Linked DNA regions of Homo sapiens: region 2 is linked to region 1. Evidence: fine-mapped expression QTL. Tissue or cell type: whole blood. Region 1 holds a variant in brackets; the other region holds the start of a gene. All regions are shown on one strand. Distances are between the middles of the regions.

Evidence for each region. PIP is the estimated chance that this variant, and not a neighbour inherited with it, causes the effect.
Region 2: it holds the start of ELL, and the variant in region 1 is fine-mapped to the expression of ELL in whole blood (TOPMed, PIP above 0.99).

Annotation. Positions count from the first base shown.
Region 1 is chr19:18,452,503-18,460,502 of GRCh38, forward strand. ELL (elongation factor for RNA polymerase II) reads right to left here. Exons shown (of 12, transcript NM_006532.4): 6 at 5,703-5,827. Among named protein-coding and RNA genes, the nearest start is that of ISYNA1, 18 kb to the left of the region's middle. RefSeq lists a silencer at 3,047-3,263. The variant C/T (reference allele first, on the strand shown) is at 3,727.
Region 2 is chr19:18,517,702-18,525,804 of GRCh38, forward strand. ELL (elongation factor for RNA polymerase II) reads right to left here and starts at 4,369. Exons shown (of 12, transcript NM_006532.4): 1 at 4,220-4,369. The coding sequence starts at 4,354. RefSeq lists silencers at 3,053-3,102, 3,833-4,142 and enhancers at 3,358-3,873, 3,874-4,389, 4,533-4,862.

The DNA.
Region 1 (8,000 bases):
AGAGACAAAAGGAGGAGTGAAGACACCGGAAAGCATAGCAGAAGCATGAGTGGTGACTGCTGCAGGATCCAGAGAATCCAGGGCCCAGAGCAAGAGGCACCACGACCTCAGGGGACAACAGACTGCTGCAGGGCCATCCCCCACAGCTCTACTCCAGATCCTCATCACTGCTGGTGGGGCTGCAGGACAGTGAGCCCAGGGCTGTCAGGCAGCAAAGAGGCTCGGGCCACTCCTCCAGGCAGTTGGGAAGTTACCTGGGCCACAGCTGGACAACAGGATGGCCAGATGTGTGGCCTCAGGAGAAGAAGAAACAGGGCCCAGGACTAGGGCACATCGGGATTCAGAGGCCCCAAGCTGTGCAGTGTCCCCAACGGCTGCACTGCAGCTTCCAGGCAACAAACGTCAGACCTCAAAACAGAGGAACACGAAAATACATTTGAAAAGAGACTCCACAGGGAGATGAAAACGTTAAAAAATAAATCAACAGGCCGGGCGCCCATGGCTCACGCCTGTAATCCCAGCACTTTGGGAGGCCAAGGCAGGCGGATCACCTAAGGTCAGGAGTTCGGGACCAGTCTGGCCAACATGGTGAAACCCCGTCTCTCCTAAACGTACAAAAAAATTAGCCGGGCATGGTGGTGGGCACCTGTAACCTCAATTACTTGGGAGGCTGAAGCAGGAGAATCACTTGAACCCGGGAGGCGGAGGTTGCAGTGAGCAGAGATCATGCCATTGCACTCCAGTCTGGGCAACAAGACCGAGACTCCGTCTCAAAAACATAAAATAAATAAATAAAAAATGCCAGTTTTCGTGTCCTTGGAAAAACAAAAGCTCTGAATAGACGTTTCTTCAAAGAAGCTATACAAATGGCTAAAAGCACATAACAAGATGCTCAATGCCATGTGTCATCAGGGAAATGCAAATCAAAACAACGAGACACTGGCTACTCTGGGCACACTGCCTATGGGTTAGCCCTGCCCTGCAAGGAGCAATAATGAACAAACAAACCCACCAAACAAAAAACAAACAACGAGATACCACTTCACACACACCCAGGGATGACTGGAATAAAAAAAACAGAAAATAGGTTGGGCGCAGTGGCTCACGCCTCTAATCCCAGTCACAGCTCACTGCAGCCTGGATCTCCTGTGCTCAAGTGATCCTCCCACCTCAGCCTCTAGGGTAGCTGGGATCACAAGAGCACAACACCATGCCTGGCTAATTTTTTCATTTTTTGTAGAGATGAGGGTCTCACTATGTTGCCCAGGCTTGTCTAGAACTTGAGCCCAGGCTTGGGCTCAAGCAATCCTCCCACCTAAGCCTCCCAAAGTGCTGACATTATAGGCATGAGCCACCACGCCCGGTCCTGATTCAACATTCCTCACAGCTACAAGTTTCCACAGATTACATGTCAGCCACACAGCGTATAATTCCATTGATCTGAAATGTCCACAACAGGCAAATCAATAGAGACAGAAAGCAGATTAGTAGTTACCAGGGGCTGGGAGCATGGGAGGGAATGGGGAGAATGACTCCTGATGGGGATAGGGTTTCCTTTTGGGGAAATGAAAATTTTCTGGAACTAGACAGAGGTGGTGGCTGCACAATATTATGAACGTACAAAATGTTACTGAGCTGCTCACTTTAAATGGATGACTTGTGTTACATGAACTGTATCTGAATAAAGCTGTTATTCTTTAAAAAACATCCTTAGAGGCCGGGCCCGATGGCTCACGCCTGTAATCCCAGCACTTTGGGAGGCCGAGGCAGGTGGATCACGAGGTCAGGAGATCGAGACCATCCTGGCTAACACGGTGAAACCTCATCTCTACTAAAAATACAAAAAATTAGCCGGGCATGGTGGCGGGCGCCTGTAGTCCCAGCTACTCGCGAGGCTGAGGCAGGAGAATGGTGTCAACCCAGGAGGCGGAGCTAGCAGTGAGCCGAGATCGCGCCACTGCACTCCAGCCTGGGTGACGAGCAAGACTCCGTCTCAAAATAAATAAAGAAATAAATAAAATAAACATCCTTAGAGTAGGTTAAAAATGACATCCTGGGCTGGGCATAATGGCTCATGCCTGTAATCCCAGTACTTTGGGAGGCTGAGATGGGCAGATTACCTGAGGTTGGGAGTTCCCGACCAGCCTGGCCTGCATGGTGAAACCCTGTCTCTACTTAAAAATACAAAATTAGCCGGTCGTGGTGGCAGGCGCCTGTAATCCCAGCTACTCGGGAAGCTGAGGTAGGCGAATCACTTGAACCTGGGAGGCAGATGTTGCAGTGAGCAGAGATTGCGCCACTGCACTCCAGCCTGGGCAACAGAGTGAGACTCAGTCTCAAAAAAAAAAAAAAAAAAGGCATCCTGGCTGGGCACGGTGGCTCACACCTGTAAACCCAGCACTTTGGAAGGCTGAGGCCCTTGAGGTCAGGAGTTTGAGACAAGCCTGGCCAACATGGTGAAACCCCAGATCTACTAAAAATACAAAAAATTAGCCGGGCATGGTGGTGCATGCCTGTAATCCCAGCTACTCAGGAGGCTGAGGCAGGAGAATTGCTTGAACCGGGGAGGCAGAGGTTGCAGTGAGCCAAGATTGCGCCACTGCACTCCAGGTTGGGCGATAGGGTGAGAGTCCCTCTCCAAAAAAAAAAAAAAAGAAAGAAAGAAAGAAAAAGACATCCTTTCCATTAAATAAGAACATGATGAGTTAGGCCAGGCACAGTGGATCACGCCTGTAATCCCAGCACTTTGGGAGGCCGAGGCGGGTGGATCATGAGGTCAGGAGTTCCAGACCAGCCTGGCCAAGATGGTGAAACCCCATCTCTACTAAAAATACAAAAATTAGCCAGGCGTGGTGGCGGGCACCTGTAATCCCAGCTACTCGGGAAGCTGAGGCACAGAATTGCTTGAACCCAGGAGGCGGAGGTTGCAGTGAGCCGAGATCATGCCACTGCACTCCAGCCTGCGTGACAGAGCAAGACTCTGTCTCAGGAAAAAAAAAAAAAAAAGAACATGCTCCTACGAAAACGCAATGGGGAAGACTCTTAGAAACTAGAAATAATAGGCCTTGCATGGTGGCTCACATGTGTAATCCCAGTGCTTTGGGTGGCTGAGGCAGGCAGATCACTTGAGGTCAGGAGTTCAAGACCAGTCTGGAGAACATGGTGAAACCCCATCTCTTTGCCTAGGCAACAGAGCAACACTCTGTCTCAAGAAAAAAAAAGAAACTACAAATAATAGTAAATTAAGAGACAGGATGAGAAATGTCAAAGAAGTCTCCTAAAAGGAGAATAAAAAAGAGCAAGAGATGAAAACCAGCTGGGCGCGGTGGCTCACGCCTGTAATCCCAGCACTTTGGGAGGCTGAGGTGGGCGGATCACCTGAGATCCGGAGTTTGAGACCAGCCTGACCAACATGGAGAAACCCCATCTCTACTAAAAATACAAAATTAGCCGGGCATGGTGCGCATGCCTGTAATCCCAGCTACTCTGGATGCTGAGGCAGGAGAATGGCTTGAACCCAGGAGACGGACGTTGCTGTGAGCCGAGATCGCGCCATTGCACTCCAGCCTGGGCAACAAGAGCAAAACTCCATCACAAAAAAAAAAAAAAGAGATGAAAACCAGGAAGAGGAGGACAGACTCTAGCAGCCTGCCAAGAGCAGTTTGAGGTGGTGTGCAGTAGGATAGGCCTTTCCACTACCACACACAGGACAGAAGGACGGATAGA[C/T]GGATAAGGCAAGTTTTCAGCCTGCGGGGGCCGTGGTGCCCACCATCCCAGAGTAGGTACCTGGCCAGCCCCTGGCTCTGTGGACCAGCACAGGGTTGGGGTGGGAAGCCTCTGACCTTCAACGTGGAGGGAAAGCATCTTGGACTCTACAAGTCTAGATGTGATCAACCGCCGGCTCAGCAGGACCATCGTCTGGGCATGAAGATGTGGCCAGCAGTCCTCCTGGAGCCCTGTCCTCAGAGAGGTGCTCCAGGAGCTGTGCTCCCTTGGCACCAGGGAGGAGCAGGAAGGAGGAGTATATAGACTCTGGCATGGGGCTCACAGGAGAGGGGAGTGGCTCAGGTTGGAGGTAAGGGCACCAGGCAGTGTGTGGCTTGGGCAGAGGAATCAGGAACTCTTGGGGGGACCTGCAGGACCCCTGACCCATGGACAGTGATGAGAGGAGATTTGGATACCAGGGACAGATCGGGTTTGGACATCATGAACAAAGAGAACATGAGTGGAGAAACCACCCCCCAAAGCCACATGTGGTGCCAGCTCAGCTGGGGAGGCTCCTGCAGTGACTTGGGCCCCCACATCCCATCTGTCTCACGGCCTGCACTAGGCTAACGGCCTGCACTGGGCTAGCCCAGCTGGTAACAAATACTCCAAGGCCCTGCTTTGATATACACGAAGCCATGGTGTCAAAAACTGCTATAAATGGGGCTTTCTTAGGGATGGGGTGCTAAATAGGAAAAAAAAAAAAAAACAGCTATGCAGAGGGGCACCGCAGGTCACCTTCTATGTGGTTATGGCCCAGGGACATCAACCCTGCCCCCTGCACGCTAGTGGAAGCTTGTGAAGGCAGTGCTGATCCCCATGCCGGCCCAGAGTGAAAGCAGAGTGCCAAGGGGCTGGCATGAGCCCAGCAAGCTCACTCAGCAGACGGAACATGAGCCTTGAATCAGGGGAGCTGGAGGCGGCTCTGGAGCCTGCATCCCGGGGAAGCTCCCCGACGCCCCAGAGGTGCAGCCCAGCCTTCTCCACCTCACTCCACTAGCTCTGGGCAGTTCTCCTTCCAGTGCCCTAAGGGTCTGAGGAACCCAGGGGGCCAAGGGAGAGGACACAGGGTATGAGGATGGGGGCGGGTCTTCTGCCAAGACTGTGCCCTCCGCCAGCCTGCCGCCAAGCCAGGGCAGTGCCCCGCAGGCCCCTGACCTGCACACCCAGGGTGGACAGGCAGGCACTACCCTCTCAGGGGAGCAGAGTGGACCCCCAACTTCATTCTGCTTTCCAGAGGCAATTACTGCTTTAAACAGCTGAACTTCCAAAAAACAACTACAAACTCATAAATACCTCCGAGTCCCTGAGAAATCACTTACGGACTAATTAGCAGATTGACCTGCTTCACAGCCCGAGCTCCCCTAGCTGGCAGCAGTGGAGAAGGAAGTCATTAGCCGCCTGCCTCCTTAACCACTGCTCCCCTGAGCTGCTGCCACTTCTGACCCTGGGTCCCAATTAGCCTGAGGGGATGCATTTAATTAACGCTGCTTAATGACGCCTGCCCTGCCGGGAGTGTCGTTTGGCCTTATTTCTCTCTACTTCAGGTTCTTGAGAGGCTCTTTTCAAAAAGTCAGTGAACTTCCCAGGCCCTGTGGGGATGCCCAGGTTGTGGAGGGAAGCATGAAGGGAAGTTGGGGACAGCTGAGGAGGGTCTCAGCAGACTGAGGCCTTTTGTCTGAAGATTCCAAGGTCGGGGCCAGTGACTCACACCTCCGTCCCACTCTGTGAGCGTGGCCTTCCCCCACCACGGGACACCCTGGGGCACCACGTGGGCAGTAGGGAGGATGGCCAGAGAGGCCTACTTGGACCCTTCCATCCTGCTCCCAAGCCCTGTGGCCTTCAGGACCACACAAGACCACCCCAGCATCCTCTGGGTAAGCTCTGGCTGCCTTCATGCGGGTGGGGACATGCTGGGGGATGGGAGGCGGCATTACCGGACGAGCACCCGCTTCAGCAGCTGCTGGTCCCCCTCCGAGTAGCCAGGCCAGTCCTTCTGCACATCCTTGTACATGCAGTCCTGCAGTGTACACGTGCCGTCCTTAGCACTCATGTTGGCCACCTGCAAGACAGAGCCAGCCATCACTTTGTGGGAATCCTGAGAGAGACGGGGGACTAGAGAAAAAAGATCTGATAGTGGGTTTGGGAGGGTGTGCAGAGACAGTGGGAGACAGACAGAGACAGAGGAGAGGAAAGAGGATGGCCCACTACCGATCCGTGATGTCTCCCACCCCCAGTTCCCCCGCACACAATCCTCAGGGTGCAGAAGGGATAATGAGGGTCATGAAGGCAGGTCCAGACTCAACTGTCTTAGAGGTGCTGGGGCCAGGCTGGCTCCAAAAAGGGGAGGGCTACCACCTGCAGTACTGAGACCCCATCACCTGCCCCCTGGCCCCTCTAGCCTGCTTTTTTTCCTTTTTTGATACAAGATCTTAGCTCACTATAGCCTAGACCTCCTGTGCTCAAGCGACCCTCCCACGTCAGCCTCCCAGGTAGGTGGGGCCACAGGTGTGCACCACTATACTCCAGCTAATTTTTTTTAAGAGATGGGATCTCGCTATGTTGTCCAGGCTTGTCTTGAACCCCTGGGCTCAAGCGATCCTCTGATCTCAGCCTCCCAATGTGCTGGGATTCCAGCCACCACACCTGGCTCCTATTTCTTCCAGGCTGGAGTGCAGTGGTGTGATCAAGGTTCACTGTAGCTGCAAACTCCTGGGCTCAAGCGATCCTCTTGCCTCAGTCTCCCAAGTAGGTGGGCTATAAGCATGCACTATCATACCCAGCTAATTTTTTGTATAGATAGGATCTCAGTATTTTGCATAGGCTGGTCTCGAGCTCCTGGCCTCAAGGATCCTCCCACCTCAGCCTCCCAAAGTGCTGGAAACAGGCGTGAGCCACCGCGCTGGGCTCCACCCCATTTCTGATCACAACTCCCAGGGAAGAGTCAGCCACGGCTGGGGATGCTGGGTGAGGGGTACCTCTGGGGCCACGTCTGAGCCCACCTTCCCTACAACCAGCCTGCCTTGCTGTTGCCGGTTGACCAAAGCTAAGTTCGTCTCCCAGACTGCTAACAAAGATGGATTCAGAACGTCTGCCTTAGAGGGATCTGAGGAAGCTCCAGGTCACTGCCCTGAGTGGGTGCTGCGTGCTGGCCTACAGGGCACTCTGGTCTCCATCTTGCTGCAGGCATAGCAGTCACTGTTTTCTGCTGCATCTGACATGGCTCTGCGTCACAGCGTATCCCATGGGGAGCATTTTTTTTTTTTTTTTGAGATGGAGTCTCGCTCAGTTGCCCAGGCTAGAGTGCAATGGCGCTATCTTGGCTCACTGCAAGCTCCGCCTCCCGGGTTCACGCCATTCTCCAGCCTCAGCCTCTGGAGTAGCTGGGACTACAGGCACCCGCCACCACGCCCGGCTAATTTTTTTGTGTGTGTATTTTTAGTAGAGATGGGGTTTCACCATGTTAGCCAGGATGGTCTCGATCTCCTGACCTCGTAATCCACTTGCCTCGGCCTCCCAAAGTGCTGGGATTACAGGCGTGAGCCACCGCGCCCGGCCCATGGGGAGCATTTTTAACAGTTGAGTAATATCCCACCCCCAAACTGCTGCCAGTTTCTCTGTAGCATAAACAGACATTACTGTGTGCAGTTTTTTTCAGGTTGGCAACAGTTTCCTTCGACGGGATTCCCAGAAGCCAGATTAGTAGGTCAAAGGCTGAATATTTTTATGGCTCATGACAGGCTTTGCTAAATATTACTCAGCCGTCAACACCCCTCCCCTTGAAGGATAGGCTTGCGGGTTTCCCTGGGGCTCAGCCAGTCCTAGAGGTGGACACCTTCCATCTCTGCTCTAGATTTTTCCACAGAGGGAGGGCCAAGCACCTTTGAGGCATGCAGTTTTGTCACTGCCATTCCTCAGCATGTCTGAGGGCCTGTGAGGGGCTGGAAATGACCAGTCTGGGTGAGGCACATCCCCCTCCTCTTCTACAAGCCAACAGTGTCCTGCTGACCCCCACAGCTGCTTGGGGGGAAGCAGCTGCATAATGAATATAGAAGCAAGAAGCAGACGAGCTGTCCAGGGGAAGTCACAGTGGCACAGGAAGGGACAATCTGCCTGCAGATGCTGGCCAGGCCTGCTCCCAGGAGGCACTGAACCAAAGTCACCTGGAGAAGCCAGGCACCAGCACAGACACCTCCTGGCCAGGCCAATGCAGGTCCCACATCTGATGACTCCAT
Region 2 (8,103 bases), 65 kb after region 1:
AAAAATTTTTTTTAATTAAAAGAAAAAGAAAAAAACTGGGCCAGGCACAATGGCTCATGCCTGTAGTCCCGGCACTCTGGGCAGCTGAGGTGGGAAGATCACTTAAGCCCAGGAGTTCAAGGCCGCAGTGAGCTATGATCACACCACTGTACTCCAGCCTGGGTGACAGAGTAAGACCTTGTCTCAAAAAAAAAAAAAAAAGAAGGAGAAGAAGAAGAAAAGAAAAGAGAAAAACTAGGCCAGGCACGAAGGCTCACTCCTATAATCCCAGCACTTTGGGAGGCCAAGGGAGGAGGATCACCTGAGGTCAGGAGTTCGAGACCAGCCTGACCAACATGGTAAAACCCCGTCTCCACTAAAAGTACAAAATTTGTAGGGCATGGTGGTGCATGCCTGTAATCCCAGCTATTTGGGAGGCTGAGGTTGCAGTGAGCCAAGATAACACCATTACACTCCAGCCTAGCAACAAGAGTGAAACTCTGTCTCAAAAAACAACAACAACAACAACAAAAACTAGGCCAGGCACGATGGCTCACTCTTGTAATTACAGCACTTTGGGAGGCTGAGGCAGGGAAATCACTTGAGCCCCGGCGTTTGAAATCAGCCTTGGCAACATAGTGAGACCCCGTCTCTACAAAAAAATTTAAAACTTAGCCAGGTGCAGTGGTGCACACCTGTGGCCCCAGCTACTCAGGAGACTGAAGCAGGAGGGTGGTAGTTCGAGGCTGCAGTGAGCTATGATCATGCCATTGCACTCCAGCCTGGACAATGGAGCAAAACCCTGTCTCAAAAAAAAAAAAAAAGGGGGCCCAGCGTGGCGACTCAAGCTTATAATCCCAGCACTTTGGGAGGCTGAGGCAGATGGATCACTTGAGGGGTCAGGAGTTTGAGACCATCCTGACCACATGGTAAAACCCCATCTCTACCAAAAATACAAAAATTAGCCAGGCACGGTGATGCGTGCCTGTAATCCCAGCTACTTGGTAGGCTGAGGCAGGAGAATCACTTGAACCCGGGAGGCGGAGGTTGCAGTGAGCTGAGATCACGCCAGCGCAATCCAGCTTGGGCGACAGGGCAAGACCCTGTCTCAAAAAAAAAAAAGGAAAGAAAAACTGCACAAAGTCCAAGGTAGAGTGAGAAGGCCAGCAGCTATGTGTACTGCTGCGCCTTTACCTTCCACCACGCTGCTCCAGCTGGCTACCAGGTCAACACCAGAGCCCTCTGGGGAGAGAAAACAGGAGGGCTTCTACCTGGGCTGTTCCCAGAGCTAGGATTACCTGCTCCTGGGAGCCACAGAGAAAGTTCCACAGCAAGTTCCTTTCTAGCCCCTGCCACACCTGAATTTGTAAAAGCCTCTTCACAATTAAAAACTAAAAATAGGCCGGGCACGGTTGGTCACGCCTGTAATCCCAGCACTTTGGGAGGCCGAGGTGGGCAGATCACAAAGTCAGGAGATCGAAACCATCCTGGCTAACACGAAAAATCGCACCACTGCACTCCAGCCTGGACAACAGAGCAAGACTCCGTCTCAAAAAAAAAAAAAAGAAATTAAAAATAAAAGCCCTCTCCACAAGTTGCAATTGGCAAACTATATAACCACAGCATCGAGGAATACAAAACTCTGGCTTCTGGGTGATAGAGTTGTCCACATGAGAGTTTGTCCATAACCAGTATATTTCTCTGGTTACACAATCAAGTTCTTCAAGCCACCTTCCTCAAGCTCACTACCCAAAACCACAGAGAGCACGGAGCTGCCGTGCCTTAGAAAAGTCCATCCACTATACTGCCCCATGGGCAAGATTAAATTCGAAAGTAGCCAAGCTGGCTGGGAGCAGTGGCTCATGCCTGTAGTCCCAGCACTTTTAGAGGCTGAGAAGGACGGATCACTGGAGGTCAGGAGTTCAAGACCAGCCTGGCCAACATGGCAAAACCCTGTCTCTACTAAAAATACAAAAATTAGCCGGGTGTGGTGGCACGTGCCTGTAGTCCCAGCTACTCGGGAGGCTGAGGCAGGAGAATCGCTTGAACCCGGGAGGCAGAAGCTGCAGTGAGCCGGGATCGCGCCACCTCAATGAAGCCTGGGCAGCAGAGTGAAACTCCATCTCAAAAAAAAAAAAAAAAAAGAAAGAAAGAAAGAAAGAAAGTGGCCAAGCCACTTAAATTACCAGACAGCTTTTTGAGAAAAATCCAAGTTTGAATCACCCCAAAATATAATCCAGCCAGCCAAGTTGCTCTGGATGGCTTGGAAAAGTTCTTCTAGGAAGCCCCTCCTGGCTGGTCAACACACTGCCCTACACAGCTGGGCTCCGAGCCAGAGGAGTTTAACAGTCCACAGTTACCTTCACCCTAACATGAGGAAGATCCAGCTTAGAGAGGGGATGTAACCAATACCCTAAAGTAAAAATAGCAGTGTGACAGCATGAGGTGGACACACAGGCGGACCTTCTGGACTGAAAAGCAAGCGAGGGCAGCATCAGAGAGAAGGCGGAGCTCCTGGTTCCTAAAGCACAGAAGACAGTGGTGACCAGGTACCAAGTCCATCGTAGTTATATGACTCACGAGCTCTCCCCCAGCTGTTTCTAGGAAAGCCTGCCTTCCTGCAGGACAAGTCAGAATCGCTCAGGGAAAAAGACCCAGGGCCAGAATTCTACCAGGAAGAGAGGCTCTGGCTGGTCATGGGCCAGCAGCTGCTGTCGCTGCCACTGTCTCCTCCTCACCTGCAGGGGCGCCTTAGCCTCATCTTGGGGAGTCTTTTTGACAAGGTGCGAACTTGCTCTTTCAAAAAAAAATGAAATCCTCATTCCATGAAGGGGAAAACTGCGACACCGGGACAGGGAGGAAATTGCCCAAAGACATGGGAAGAAGCACGGAAGGGGTGGGCACCGGGAGAGTGGTGGAAACGAAACAGGGGGAAGAAATTCTCGGCTTAGCTAATGGAGCTGAACAAGTTCGGGGCAGGAAGAAAGCCACATTCCTTCCTAGTTAGTCTCCCTCCTCCCCCGCCCGCGGCACCCCCCCACCCCCACCATCAACAGTATACACAAACACACACACACGCAGGGAGCAGGGCTCTCTGAGCCCGAGACTAGACCCACCCCCACTCCCTTTAGGGCAATGAAGCCCCCAATTTCCAGAAAAGGAGTTACAAGGTTCCTAAACCACTTCCCCTCGGGACCTGACCACTGGTCATCTGCAACTTCTGACCCAGCACAGACGGGGGGAGGGGGGGCCATGACACAAACAGAAATGAAAAAGGCAGGTTTCTGACCACGGCCCCAGATGCGCCCCAAAGTCAGGCCCAAGAGAACATACACAGCAGCCTCCCCTCCCCACCACCAGCCAGGTGGCAGAACCGAAACGCCTCAAACTTCCCCCAGATGGGCCCAAATCGGCCTCTGAGAAGTTCCAGAGTCAGCGGCCAGATGTGGTAGCCAGAGCTTCCTCCTGGGTGGCAGGGATCCCCTACATGTGCCCTGAGGATAACATCACAGCCGCCCCCAACACTTCCACTCTCCAAGGAACCTCTCTCCGGAGAGAGAGGGTCACCTGGGGGTAAGGGGAGCAGAAAGCTGGGACAAGCTGTCAGTTTCTGCCCAAACTCCCCGTCCCAAGAACCAAAGTGGCCCAACCTGAGTGGCTTCATCGGAACGCGTCAAAGCCAGCCCCCAGCTGCAAAGCCTTCCACCCAGACAGAACAGACCCCCACAAGTGCCTCGCTGACCACCCCCTGCCGGGCACCCAGACGATCGCTGCTTCCCAGGAGGACAGACACAGTCACCCCCACCAACGGCGCTGCCCCGGCCCCAGATGGAAAAGCCCCCAGCTTCCCCCTATCACGGTGCCGGGACCGTGCGGCCCACCGCCTCCTCGCCCCGCCGCCAGGTGCGCAAACTGGACCCTGCCCAGGTGCCCAGCAGGCCAGAAAGGCCCCGGACGCCGCCAGGTGCCGACACCGACGCCCCCCGGGCCCGGCGCGCGAGTCTGGGCCCCTCAGCAGCCCCGGGCCACCCGCCTGTATTGCCTCCTAGTGCTGAGAAGGAACGCGGTTCTCAGCGCTCCAGGCCGGACTGGCGCCCACTCCGCGCCCCGCCGGCCCAGGGACCCGCGAGCAGCACCACAGACCTAGCGTCTCCGAGCCCGGACGCCTCAGTGAGGGGAGCGCGAGGCCGGCCCGCGTCCGGACGTTCCCCACTGGCGCGCCGGGCGCCATGCCACTCACCTGTCTGGCGCGGTAGCTCTCGAAGGCCCTCAGGGCACTGTCGGTGAGCTTCACGTGGAACACCGACACCTTGCTGCCGTCGCTAACCCGCCCGCACGACAGCCCGTAGCTCCTATCCTCCTTCAGCGCCGCCATCTTGCGACCATCTCTCCCCCGCGCCCCCTTCCCGGCTCCAGCGCCGCCACGCCGGCCACGCCCCGCCCCGCCGCCCGCTGACGCGCTGCATTATTCATGAGACGCGGCTGGCCACGCCCCCCGAGTCCGACCAAACCAACAGTCGCCGCCACACCGGCAGGCAGCGCACTACATTATTCAGGAGACGCGCCTGGCCACGCCCCATGAGGGCCCCACAAGGCCCACAGTCAACGCCCCAAGTTGTTGCATATTCATAAGGCACTTATGGCCCCGCCTCTTCAGGCCCTAGGGGTGGCCACTTCCGTGAACGAACTCCGCCTCAACACGCGCACCCCTCCAGGCCCCGCCTCCATAGTATTATACATAACCCTGACTCAGCCAGCCAGGCGCGTCAAAGCCCCGCCCCTACAGCCGCTGACGTGATGCATTATTTATGAGATCTCTACAGTCTTCCGTCTTTGGCTTCTGTGGAAAGCCGCAGAGAGGGCGTGGAGGGGCGGAGCCGGCTCGAAACACGTGGGTGGGTAGGCCCCGCCGCGGGCCGGGAGGGTGGGCGTGGCTATGTAAACGGAGCGCGCGCGTTGGACGCTGGGTTGGACACATAAGGCATCCCTTAGGCGGGGTGGATGGGACTTCCACCCAGGGAAGGTGCTGGACCGGTAGGTGGAAGAGGAGCTGGTAAACTTTTTCTTATGAGATGAGTACTTTTAATAGGATAAAATCCTACATCCCCACAGTCCCTGAGCGATGGTGCAGTCCAGCTTCATTTTCCTATTTTAATTTTTTTTTGAGGGGTCTTGCTGTGTTGCCCAGGCTGGAGTGCAATGGCGCCATCATGGCTCACTGCACCCTCGACCTCCTGAACTCAAACTGATCCTCCTTGTCTGGGTCTGCTGAAATGCTAGGATTACAGGAGTGAGCCACCAAGCCCAGACTTCCATTTTCTTTTCTTTTCTTTTTTTTTTTTTTTGAGACGGAGTCTTGCTCATCAGCCCAGACTGGAGAACAGTGGCGCTATCTCGGCTCAATGCAACCATCGTCTCCTGAATTCAAGCGATTCTCCTGTCTCAGCCTCTCGAGTAGCTGGGATTACAGGCGCCCGCCATCATGCCCAGCTAATTTTTGTATTTTAGTAGAGATGGGGTTTCACCATGTTGACCAGGCTGGTCTTGAACTCCTGACCTCAGGTGATCCGCGCGCCTCGCCCTCCCAAAGTGCTAGGATTACAGGCGTGAGCCACCTCCCCCAGTTTTTGTTTGTTTGTTTGTTTTTAGACAGAGTTTCGATTTCCTTGCCCAGGCTGGAGTGCAGTGGTGTGATCTCGGCTCACTGCAACCACCGCCTCCTGGATTCAAGCAATTCTCCTGCCTCAGCCTCCCGAGTAGTAGCTGGGACTGCAGGCGCCCATCACAACGCCCAGCTAATTTTTTGTATTTTTAGTAGAGACGGGATTTCACCATGTTAGTCAGGCTGGTCTGGAACTCCTGACCTCAAGTGATGCACCCACCTCGGCCTCCCAAAGTGCTGGGATTACAAGCATGAGCCACTGTGCCCGGCCAGCCTTCCATTTTCTAAAAAGCAACTTCATTGAGTCACATTTTACATATAAAATATATTCCCAATGCTGTGTAGCTGTCACCACTATCTAATTTCCGAGATTTTTTTTTCTTTTTCTTTGAGACAGAGTTTCACTCTTGTTGCCCAACCTGGAGTGCAACGGTGCCATCTCAGCTCGTTGCAACCTCCGCCTCCCAGGTTCAAGCGATTCTCCTGCCTCAGCCTCCCGAGTAGCTGGGATTACAGATGCCCACCACCACGCCCAGCTAATTTTTGTATTTTCAGTAGAGACGGGGTTTCACCATATTGATCAGGTCTCTAACTCCCAACCTCAGGTGATCCGCCTGCCTAGGGCTACCAAAGTGCTGGGACTACAGGCGTGAGCCACTGCGCCTGGCCAAGGGAGGAGCTGGCTTGGAGGGCCAACCAGCTCGCTCTGTGATCTTGTGAAAGGCACCTCCTGCTTCTGAGCCTCTGTGGATTCACTTCGGAAACAGGAAACAGCAATAAGAGCAGTACTCAGGACCTAGCAAGGTGTCTCACACCTGAAATCCCAGCATTTTGGGATGCCATGACGGGAGGATCGCTTGCACCCAAGGGCTTGAGACCAGCCTGGGTAACAGGGCTAAGCCCCCTCTCTACAAAAAAATTTAAAAAATTAAAAAAATTAGCCGGGCATGGTGGAGCACCCCTGTGGTCCCAGCTACTCCGGAGGCTGACATGGGAGGCTCTCTCAAGCCCATGGGAGGTTGAGGCTGTAGTGAACTATGTTCGCACCACTATATTCCAGCACTCCAGCCTGAGTGACAGAGTAAGACCCTGTCTCCAAAAAAAAAAAAAAAAAAAAAAAAAAAAAGCCAGGCCCCCAGTGGCTCACGCCTGTAATCCCAGCACTTTTGAAGGCCGAGGGGGCTGGATCATGAGGTCAGGAGTTCGAGACCACCACGACCAACATGGTGAAACCCCGTCTCTGCTAAAAACACTAAAATTAGCCAGGCATGGTGGCACACGCCTGTAATCCCAGCTACTCAGAAGGCTGAGGCAGGAGAATAGCTTGGACCCAGGAAGCAGAGCTTGCAGTGAGCCGAGATCGTGCCACTGCACTCCAGCCTGGGTGACAGAGCAAGACTCGGTCCCAAAAAAAAAAAGTATTTCTCCACGTCTACTTTACATTTGATTCCCCAGTGGATCTCAATGAGACCCCAGGAAAAATAAGGCAGAACTTATCAGACGTTGGCATGCTCTGCAGAAGTTTCTTTTTTTTTTTTTTTTTTGAGACGGAGTCTCACTCTGTCGCCCAGGCTGGAGTGCAGTGGCACAATCTCGGGTTCACTGCAGCCTCCGCCTCCTGGGTCCAAGCGATTCTCCTGCCTCAGCCGCCCGAGTAGCTCGGGTTACAGGCACGTGCCACCACGCCTGGCTAATTTTTTGTATATTTAGTAGACGGGGTTTCACCGTGTTAGCCAGGATGGTCTCGATCTCCTGACCTCATGATCCGATGATCCGCCTGCCTCAGCCTCCCAAAGTGCTGGGATTACAGGCGTGAGCCACCATGCCTGGCCTTTTTTTTTTTTTTTTTTTTTGGAGACAAGTTCTCACTCTGTCACCCAGGCTGGAGTGCAGTGGCATGATCTCGGCTCACTGCAGCCTCCAACTCCTGGGCTCAACCCATCCTCCCACCTCAGCCTCCCAAGTAGCTGAAATTACAGGCATGCTCCACCATACTGGGCCAATCTTTTGTATTTTTTGAAGAGATGAGATTTTTCCATGTTGCCCAGGCTGGTCTCTAACTCCTGGGTTCAAAAGATCCTGTCGCCTAGCCTCCCAAAGTGCTAGGAAGTGCTAGGATTATAGGCCATAAGCCACTGCACCTGGCCGTCTGCAGACATTTTTGTTTCTTTGTTTTGAGACGGAGTTTTGCTCTTGTTGCCCAGGCTGGAGTGCAGTGGCACGATCTCGGCTCACTGCAACCTCTGCCTCCTGGTTCAAGTGATTCTCCTGCCTCAGCCTCCTGAGTAGCTGGGATTACAGGCACACGCCACCACACCCAGCTAATTTTGTATTTTTAGTAGAGACGGGATTTCACCATGTAGGTCTCGAACTCCTGACCTCAAGTGATCCACCCGCCTCGGCCTCCCAAAGTGGTGGGATTACAGGCGTGAGCCACCGTGTCCGGCTTTGTCTGCAGAAAT